Linked DNA regions of Homo sapiens. The protein of the gene in region 2 purifies or fractionates together with the protein of the main gene of each other region. This does not show direct contact. Each region holds a gene or a part of one and is shown on either strand. Other genes may lie near its edges.

Region 1 (4,695 bases), on a different chromosome or scaffold from region 2:
GAACACATTTATTTTCCTGCCTTCATCAACCAGGAAACCAGGCAACATATAATACAATAGTGGTTTTCAGATACTGAGCAAAAGGCAGTGCAGGGCAGTGATCCTTGAGAAAGGAAACAAATGAGGGGAGTCCTATGAGTGCTCTAACTCGCTGTCCAGAGTGTTTCTAGGCCACGCACAGGGAGAGGGAAGCTTAACAAATCTCAAGCAAAAAAAAAAAAAAACAAAAAAAAACTGCCACAACACTTCTTTAGGGAAAGAACTGTTTGTTGAACAAATGGTGCTGGGACAACTGGATATACATGTGAAAAAAATGTAGTAAGTTAAACATAAAACTACCATAAACCCAGCAATTCCACTCCTGGGTATTTACCCAAGAAAAATGAAAATAAATGTCCATACAAAGACTTGTAGGAGAATGTTCACAGCAGTATTATGGATAGGCAAAATGTGATATATCCATACAGTGCAATACTATTCAGCAATAAAAAGCAATGAACCACTGATACATGCAATTAATACTTCATGGATGAACCTCAAAAACGTTATACTAAGGAAATAAGCCAGGCATAAGAGATCACACATTGTATGATTTATATGAAATATCCAGAAAAGGCAAATTTATAGAGACAGAAAGTTAGTGGTTCTCTGGGCTGGGGGTAATGGGGATTAACTGTAAATGAACAAGAGAGATCTTACGGTAGGATGAAAATATTCTAAAACTTATTTATGGTAATGACTGTACTACTCGAGAAAGTTACTAAACATCTGTTTTTTCTTTCTTTCTTCCTTTCTTTCCTCCCCCCTTCCTTCTCTTCCTCCCCTTCCCTCCCTCCCTTCTCTCTCCCTCCCTCCCTCTTTCTCTTCTGTTCTCGTCTCTTCTCTTTTTTCTTTTTTTGAGACAGGGTCTCACTGTCACCATCTCAGCTCACTGCAACCTCTGCCTCCCGGACTCAAGCAATTCTCCTGCCTCACTTTCTTGAGTAGCTGGGACTACAGGCGTGCACCACCATGCCCGGCTAATTTTTGTATTTTGAGTACAGACAGGGTTTCATCATGTTGGCCAGGCTGGTCTCGAACTCCTGACCTCAAATGACCCGCCCACCTCGGCCTCCCAAAGTGCTGGATAGTATGCCAAAGGTCTTATAATTTAAAGAATTAAGGCTACATATGTATCTTAATGGCTCCAAAAGGTTTCCTAACACATTTCTGAAAATCAAGTATCAAATATCCTTTTAAAAAAATATGATACATGAGATGGCTCAAAAATAAAAATGAATTTATAAGGAATTCTCCATAAATAACCAAAGACATTAAAACAAAAACAGAAACATCAAGACATAACAATCCTAAATATAAATGCCTGCCCTAATAACAGAACTTCTAATAAAATGAAGTAACAACTTGCAGAACTACAAAGTGAAATATTCAATTGTAATTGGTAATTTTAATAACCAATCTCAATAACTAAACTCAACTGATAGAATAAATACACAGAAAATCTGTAAGACTACAGAAGACTAGAAAAATACTGTCAACTCATTTGACCTGACGTTTATAGAACACACTCACCTCAGCCTCCTGAGTAGCTGGCATTACAGGCACATGCCATCACATCCAACTAATTTTTATATTTTTTGTGGAGACAGAGTTTTGCCATGTTACCCAGGCTGGTCTCAAACTCTTGGGCTTAATACACATTCGTGTCAAGGGCACATGAAACATTTACCAAGGCCAGGTGTGGTGGCTCATGAATAATTCTAGCACTTTGGGAGGCCGACGTGAGTGGATCACTTGAGGTCAGGAGTTTGAGACCAGCCTGGCCAACATGGTGAAACCCCATCTCTACTAAAAATATAAAAAAATTAGCTGGGTGTGGTGGCACACGCCTGTAGTCCCAGCTACTCGGGAGGCTGAGGCATGAGAATCGCTTGAACCAGGGAGGTGGAGGTTGCAGTGAGCCGAGACTGCATCACTGCACTCCAGCCTGGGCGACAGAGTAAGACACTACTTTGTCTTAAAAAAAAAAAAAGAAACATTTACCAAGACAGAACATATTCAGAATCATTAAACAAACCTAAATAAAGAATTAAAATCATACAAAGTATATTCTTTCACCAAAATGAAACTAAATTAGAAATAAATAATGGAAAGCTAGCTGGAAAATCTCTAAACATTTAGAAATCATCAACACATTTGTAAATAAGTTCATGAGTTAAAAAAAAAAAACCCACAAAGGAAATAAGAAAATATTTCGAAATGAAAACACATAAAAAGTCATCAGATAGAAATAAAGCAGTCCTCAGAGGAAAATTTACAGCATTAAACATTTAGGAAAAAAATATTGATGAGCTAAACCAGGGATCAAACTATGGCCCACAGCCCATTTTTGTAAATAATTTTTTATTGCAATTTAACAATGTCTCATCATTGACTTATTGTCTATGGATGTTTCATGCTATAAGGGCAGAGTTGAGTAGCTGTGGGAGAGGCTATTTGGTCCACTAAGGCTAAAATATTAATTGGCCTTTTACAGAAAAAGTTTGCTGACCCCTAACCTAAGCTTCCATTGTAAGAAATTAGAAAAAAAAAAAAAAAAAAAAAAAAAAGCAAATTATTTACAATGTAAGGAGAAAAAAAGAGATTTTATAAAAGAGCAAAATTCAATGAGAAAGAAAACAAACATAGATTAAATCAGTGAAGCCAAAATCTGGTTTTTTGTGTAAAATTAATAAACTTTTAGTCACACTGATGAGAAAAAAGATATTACAAATATAAGGAATAAGTATGGGGATATCACTATAGATCCTACACAGATAAAAAAATAAGGTAATATTAGGAACTATATGACAATAAATTTGACACATTAGCTGAAATGAACCAATTCCTTGAAAGACAAACTACCAAAGCTCACTGAAGAAACAGAAAACCTTAACAGCCCTATATATTAAACATACGTAATTTGTAATTCAAAACCTTCCCCTAAAGAAAAGAACAGAGCAATATCCCTCATGTATATAGAAACTATAAAATTCATTACAAAATTTTAGCAAATAAAATTCAGAAGCATCTTTTTTTTTTTTTTTTTTTTTTTTGAGACAGTCTGGCTCTGTCACCCAGGCTAGAGTGCAGTGGTTCAACGGCGGCTCACTGCAACCTCCACCTCCTGGGTTCAAGTGATTCTCATGCCTCAGCCTCCCGAGTAGCTGAGACTACAGGTGCACGCCACCACGCCAGGTGATTTTTGTATTTTTAGTAGAGATGCCTGGCTGATTTTTGTATTTTTAGTAGAGATGGGGTTTCACCATGTTGGCCAGGCTGGTCTTGAACTCCTGACCTCAAGTGACACACCCGCCTTGGCCTTCCAACATGCTGGGATTATAGGCGTGAGCCACCACACCGGCCCAGAAGCATCTCTTTATCTGCCCATACATTCAATCTGTGGTGATATATTGATTTAAAGTATATATAGGAAAAATCTGGGCCGGGCATGGTGGCTCAAGCCTGTAATTCCAGCACTTTGGGAGGCCGAGGTGGGCGGATCACCTGAGATCAGGAGTTCAAGACCAGCCTGACCAACATGGTGAAACCCCATCTCTATTAAAAATACAAAAAAATCAGTTGGGTGTGGTGGTGTGCACCTGTAATCCCAGCTACTTGGGAGGCTGAGGCATGAGAATCGCTTGAGCCCAGGAGGCAGAGGTTGCAGTGAGCCGAGATCATGCCACTGCACTCCAACTTAGGTGACAGAGTGAGTCCATCTCAAAAAAAAAAAAAAAATTCTGGCCTCACACAGATACAGTTTGAAAAAGAGAAGAAATATTTTTACAGATTTTTCAAATAATTCAATTCTTTCATACTGTTTCAAAACTCGACAACTGGTAATTTTAAAAAGGCCAGTTGCAATGTGGAAAATTTAAGAATGTCAATATTTTTTCAAATAACTTATATGGAAATCCACTGGTCTAATGTGCATCCTGAATGGATCATTTATCCATGCATGATTCTGTAATATCATGCATTAGTCATTTGAAAAATACTGGTTCATTGAGTTATGCAGATCTTCCAGATGTTGACATACTATACAATATTTTAAAAAATCACGTTCAATAATATAAGCACCAAGTTCACCAGAAAACTAATTGGGAAGTTTTCAAGTTCATGGTGGCAGATACAATTTTCTAAAATTCTAATTTTGCCTTGAAGCTCAAATTTTATTATTAGTAACATACCATCAATTGTTTTTCTTTAAGTATCACATTCATGTCTTTCATTTACAAGAAAAATGTCTACCTAACATTGAAATTAGAAGAACCATAGTTTGTCTATCAATCATTCTTTTAAGTAAACATGGTATTTCATGAACAAAGTGATTAATTCTGCTTGTAACTCAAAAAATTTTACAAGTGCTCTTCCTCCAGATAACTACTATATTTCTTCGGTAGCCAGCACAAATACTTATTTATATTCCCAATTTGTCATACAGAATACTAATAAGACATGTACTCGGCCAGGCACGGTGGCTCATGCCTGTAATCCCAGCACTTTGGGAGGCTGAGGTGGCAGGATCACTTGAGGTCAGAAGTTCACGACCAGCCTGGCCAACATGGTGAAACCCCGTCTCTACTACAAATACAAAAAATTAGCCAGGCGTGGTGGTCGATGCCTGCAGTCCCAGCTACTCAGGAGGCTGAG
Region 2 (5,281 bases):
TGTTCAAATAAGAACTTGAGTCTTCACAATTCTTTATCTTAACCCAGACATTCTTTTCTATTGATCCCAGGACTTTAAAGAAACCCAAGCAATTGCCAATCAGAAAATTCTAAAATCTACCTATAAGCTGGAAGCCTCCTGCTTTGGGTTGTCCCGCCTTTCTGGACAAAACCAATGTGTCTCTTAAATTTCATTGATGTCTCATGCCTCCCTAAAACGTATAACACCAAGCTGCACCCCGACCACCTTGAGGACACGTTCTCGGGACCTCCTGAGGGCTGTGTCATGGGCCATGGTCACTCATATTTGGCTCAGAATAAATCTCTTCAAATATGTTAGAGTTGGACTCCTTTCTCTTTTTTTCTTTTTTCTTTCTTTTTTTTTGAGACGGAGTCTCGCTCTGTCACCCAGGCTGGAGTGCAGTGGCCTGATCTTGGCTCACTGCAACCTCCATCTCCCCGGTTCAAGCGATTCTCTTGCCTCGGCCTCCTGAGTAGCTGGGACTACAGGTGCACACCACCACACGCGTCTAATTTTGTATTTTAGAAGAGACAGGGTTTCACCTTGTTGGTCAGGCTGGTCTCCAATTCCTGACCTCAGGTGATCCACCCGCCTCGGTCTCCCAAAGCGCTGGGATTCCAGGCGTGAGCCACCGCGCCCGGCCTAGTTTGACTCTTTTCGTGGACAGTTTGAAGTGTGGAATGCAAGAATATTCAGGGTTATTTGTCAGGCTGCAAAGTTGTTCCACTACCCTGCGGGAAAATGGATACAATTTTAGGCTTAGGTGTTAACAGATAACATTGTTAAGTGTGGGAAGGGCGACAACTGCACTGCAGCTGTGGCCAGTGGCGCGGGAGGGTGTCTAAACTCAAAGCCCACTGGAAGGCGAGTCGCCCATGACCAGGACTAGGGCCCAGGTGCCCCAGATAGAAGGCACCTCGTTCCCTATTGCCCCTCACTAACTCCCGTGACCAGGAGTCCCCACTCCCAACCTTGTCCTGGGGATTCTGGGGAGAAACTGCCCCAGCGCAGAGGCTACTCCAAGGGTTGTCCTTGGTCCGGCGCAAAGGGTTCGTCCGCCACCCTCCCGGCTGCGCACCCCGCGCTCGGACGCTCTAGAAAGGACTTGGGACGGGGGTTGCCTGTGGAGCGGGGGCCTAGGCTTCCTGAGCAGGGAGAGGATTGCACTTTGCTCCCCTTGGGGAACTCCCTGAGGTGAGCAGCGGGGAGGGGCCCCCATACTTTTCCCAGCAGGGGAGCCGGGAGTTTCCTCTGCTCCCACTGCAGAGCAGGGGAGGGTCCCTGCTAGGGGCGGAGAAGGGGCTGCAGGGGCGAGTGGGGAGGGGGGCTACACGTTTCCAAGAAGGGCGGCAGTTTCGTGTCGCTACAGTTGCAGGCGTGCATTTAGGAGGCTGTAGACAGGGAGGGACCCGCACTTTCCCGAGCAGGGGAGCTGCTGGGAAAGTTTGTTTTTTTGCTCCCACTGGAGACCAGGGGGTGAGGGGCGGAGAAGTGGCTGCAGGGGCGAGTGGGGAGAGGGGGCTCTATGTTTCCAAGAAGGGCGGCAGTTTTGTGCCACTACAGTTAAGGGCCGCCCTCGGGCGTGCATTCAGAGGGCTGTAAACCGGGAGGGACCCGCACTTTCCCGAGAACGTTGTAGTTCACTTTGCTTCGGGTCGGCGCCGCCCTGGCTACGGCCCTGTGGGTGGGTGAGGGGGCGTGGGCAGTTTCCTGAGAAGGGGCGGGGCGTGTACCGTACTCCCCTCGGCGCTGCCTGGGCCACCCCCGCCCGCCTACCCCCTCTGTCTCCTCCCCGGGCCCGGCGTTCCCGCCCCTTCTGTGCGCGCGTGGAGGCCGGGGCGGGGCGGGCGCAGCCGGCGCTGAGCTTGCAGGGCCGCTCCCCTCACCCGCCCCCTTCGAGTCCCCGGGCTTCGCCCCACCCGGCCCGTGGGGGAGTATCTGTCCTGCCGCCTTCGCCCACGCCCTGCACTCCGGGACCGTCCCTGCGCGCTCTGGGCGCACCATGGCCCGCGGGGCTGCGCTGGCGCTGCTGCTCTTCGGCCTGCTGGGTGTTCTGGTCGCCGCCCCGGGTGAGCGAGCGGAGGGATCCGGGTTGGGGGACGCGGAGGGCGCGGGCCGGGACTGGGGATCCGCTTGAGATGCGGCGTTGGGGGCGCCCCGCGGGGACACCCGGAGCCTCCTCCCTGCCCGGCAGGACGCGCTGTGCCCACGGGGGCCCAGGCCCGGAGGAGGCGCCCACTTTCTCCCCAACGCTTTTCCTGGAGCCGTTCCAGAGAGAAAAGTCAGCGTTTGTTGTCGGAGTTGCAAACTCTTACATGTGGGGCGGCCTTGGGAGAGGTGCGTCCGATTTTTCCCAATCTAGGGGACCTTCTTACAGATCTCTCTCCCTTTGCATGAGCCCCTCACCCCACCCCGTTATCTACCCCCAGGGTTTGGGGACCTGCGTCTTCAGGCCGCGCGCGGAGGCCGCCCTGGAGTTGCCTGTCACAGCCACGCCCTGCGTCCCGGGCCTAAATTTGGAATCGCTAGGAGCCTGAGACCCGGGTGGTGGGGGGAAGGGAAGGAAAAGTTAGAAAAAAACTTTGAGCCCTGAAAATGTTCAAAAATACTCTGTGGATGCGGGCTCCGGGAATTTCAGCGCGTGCTGTGCGCCAAGCAACACGGGGCGCAGAAAGAAACGTGTGCTTACCAAATTGTCCATCTGCGGCGGTGGAGAATTCGGAAAACAGAAAAAGTGGGCAGGGAAGAAAGAGCCACGGTCACCCTCCCACGCCCTAAACCGGGCCTATTTCTAATTATTACTTTAATCATGTTTTTCTGTTTCCCTCCCTTTGAAACGGAAACGGAGACCCTGCCGGATGTGGTATGTTATAAATTCTTTTTTCATGTTATAAATTCTTTTTTCAATGGTCAGTGCATTTTTTGCTCTTCGTATGGGCAGGCTTTTAAGTAGACCGGCTTGCGGGCAGTGTGGACTTCAGGACGGGCCTTATCAGGGCTGGACGTATTTAGGAAGGAGACGCGGGAACGCCCGGCCCTGGGGAGGACGGAGGAGGCCCGATTTGTGTTGATAGGATCTAGCTCAGCCTAGAGCTGCGGTGACTAGGCCGGGTCTCTATTTTTAGGGAGGAGTTGCTAATGGATTTACACCCTCTTTAAAGGGGTCCCGGGTATCCTAGAAATTGTGCTTTCACTTGGTAGAGATTAGAGATAATGAAGCCTGCTCCGTAGAGGAAAACTTGGAGGACTTTCCAGCCTGCAGGGGAGGTTCCAAGCAGAGCTTCCTGTTTCTCCCTTTTCTTCCTAAATGTCCTTCTTGCGGGCAACCTGTCACCACGGACGGGATGGCTCTGTAGGGTTTTATCAGCTGCATTTGTTCCCCAGGCACCTGCAGATGAACGGGTTTTTCACTTGTCTCTCTGCGAATGCATTCCTTCATCCTTCATGCCTGCCTTCCTTCTTTTGCACCTACTGTGGGCTTGGGGTCAGGGAAATATATCCAAGGGAGTGCTGGTGGCCTAAGAATTCAGTTTCCTGGAGAACAGAGGCATCTGAACAGGCAGACGGGAGACAGGGCCACAGGGACCTTTATAGTTCCATCACGAAATAACTCAGGGGTTCCCAGTGGTAAATCTTGGTGAGGGGCTTGGCTGGATTTTGAAGCCCTAGGGACAGATTTGCCGGCTGGTCTGGCGTTCCAGGTCATTGGAGCAGAGTGAGTGGAAAGCCTTATATTCTCTAAGCCCCAAACAAGTCGTTGCACAGTTTTTTTGTTTTTGTTGGTGGTGGTGGTTTTTTTTTTTTGGACGGAGTTTCACTCTGTCACCAGTCTGGAGTGTAGTGGCACGATGTCGGCTCATTGGCGTTGCACAGTTTTTAAACCCACAGCAGTGTTCATCTGGAACTCCTGATTTTGGAAGCAGACTGGGCTTAGGAACTCCAGCTGCTGATGCTTTGAGTAAAGGGAAGAGTACCTGTCTATGGGGTGGGTGGGTAGGGAAGAGCAGTGGGATAGGGGCATAACAGGGGCCAACCTATCCTTCCAATTGCAGAGGAGGGCCTGGCCGTCAGCACTGATGGATCTCCTTGAGGGACGCTTCTCACCCCTTCTTTGCAGTCTGACCCTGCTAGAGATGGAGACAGAAACAGCCTGTCCCAATAATATTAATACACGTTTCATCGGGAAAGTTGACTTTTGAGTTGGTGATGCTCAGAACACACTTTCTTATAGCAACGTGCATCAGGCTGCAAAACCCCGTTGAGCCTGAAGTAGGTTCTCAGACTGGTGCTGATAGCTCTGGCCTGATCTCAGAGTGTTGGGGACCCTGTGTTCCTTGGTTCCTTCATAAATTCTCAGGGGTACAGGTGGGATGTGGTGAGGGATGGATGGACAGAGGGAGGTGTATAGAGGAAAAGAGGAGGCTTCAGCTTTGTAGAGAGCAGGATGTCCCCACAGGGCGACGTTGGCCCCGAGGAGACACTTTGTGATGGTTGCAGACATTTTTGGTTGCCACCCTGGGGTGGGACATCCCACCATCCTGCAATGGGTGGGGCAGCTTAGGGAAGCTGCTCAGAATCTTTCAAGGGCCAGGACGGCCTCCAGCACAAAGAATTCATCTGGTCCCAAATGCCAGTGGTGTTGAGGGTGGAAAACCCTGAGGAGGGCTTGGGAGTTGCATGTATGCGCTGATTCAGGGCTGCCCCTGCAGTTAGGAGCCTGCCGTCCCGACAGTAGAGTCGCACACATCCGATGCATCCCTGCTCTCTGGCAAAGGCTGATTTGCCCCACCCCCCGGGGCAACGGCACAGCGGCCTGTGCGGTTTGAAAAACTCCAAACATCTACGGAACCGACATCTCTTGAACAATACCAGGCCTCTTCAGGATTCCCTCGCCCCAGTAGAGCAAGTGTGGGCTTCGTTGTTTTTTTTTTTTTTTAACTCTCTCCAGAGCTCTTGTCTCCTGCCCCTGTGGGTGTGTGTGGAAGTTATTAGGAGAATGTTTCTGGGCAGAGGAAGTGGGTTTTATCATCCAGCGAGTTTGCCTTGATTTTCCATCAGCGCGTTTGGCTCTGGTAAAAGTTGATTGCTTTGCATTTAACTCCCTACTTTAGGCCGAGCACGGTGACTCAGGCCTGTAAATCCCAGCACTTTGAGAGGCCGAGGGCCGGTGGGTCACATGAGGCCAAGAGTTCGAGACCAGCCTGGCCAACATGGCAAAACCCCGACTCTACTAAAAATACAAAAATTAGCCGGGCGTGGT

What was found.
Region 1: the proteins of CD99 (region 2) and OSBPL11 purify together in Homo sapiens (co-immunoprecipitation; one large-scale study listed by IntAct). This does not show direct contact.

Annotation. Positions count from the first base shown.
Region 1 is NC_000003.12:125,532,369-125,537,063, forward strand, and holds part of OSBPL11 (oxysterol-binding protein-related protein 11), read right to left. Parts: intron 1-4,695. UniProt on the Homo sapiens protein: Plays a role in regulating ADIPOQ and FABP4 levels in differentiating adipocytes and is also involved in regulation of adipocyte triglyceride storage. Weakly binds 25-hydroxycholesterol. Interacts with OSBPL9 to function as lipid transfer proteins.
Region 2 is NC_000023.11:2,689,338-2,694,618, forward strand, and holds the start of CD99 (CD99 antigen isoform a precursor), read left to right. Parts: upstream 1-1,957; 5' UTR 1,958-2,023; coding exon 2,024-2,090; intron 2,091-5,281. UniProt on the Homo sapiens protein: Involved in T-cell adhesion processes and in spontaneous rosette formation with erythrocytes. Plays a role in a late step of leukocyte extravasation helping leukocytes to overcome the endothelial basement membrane.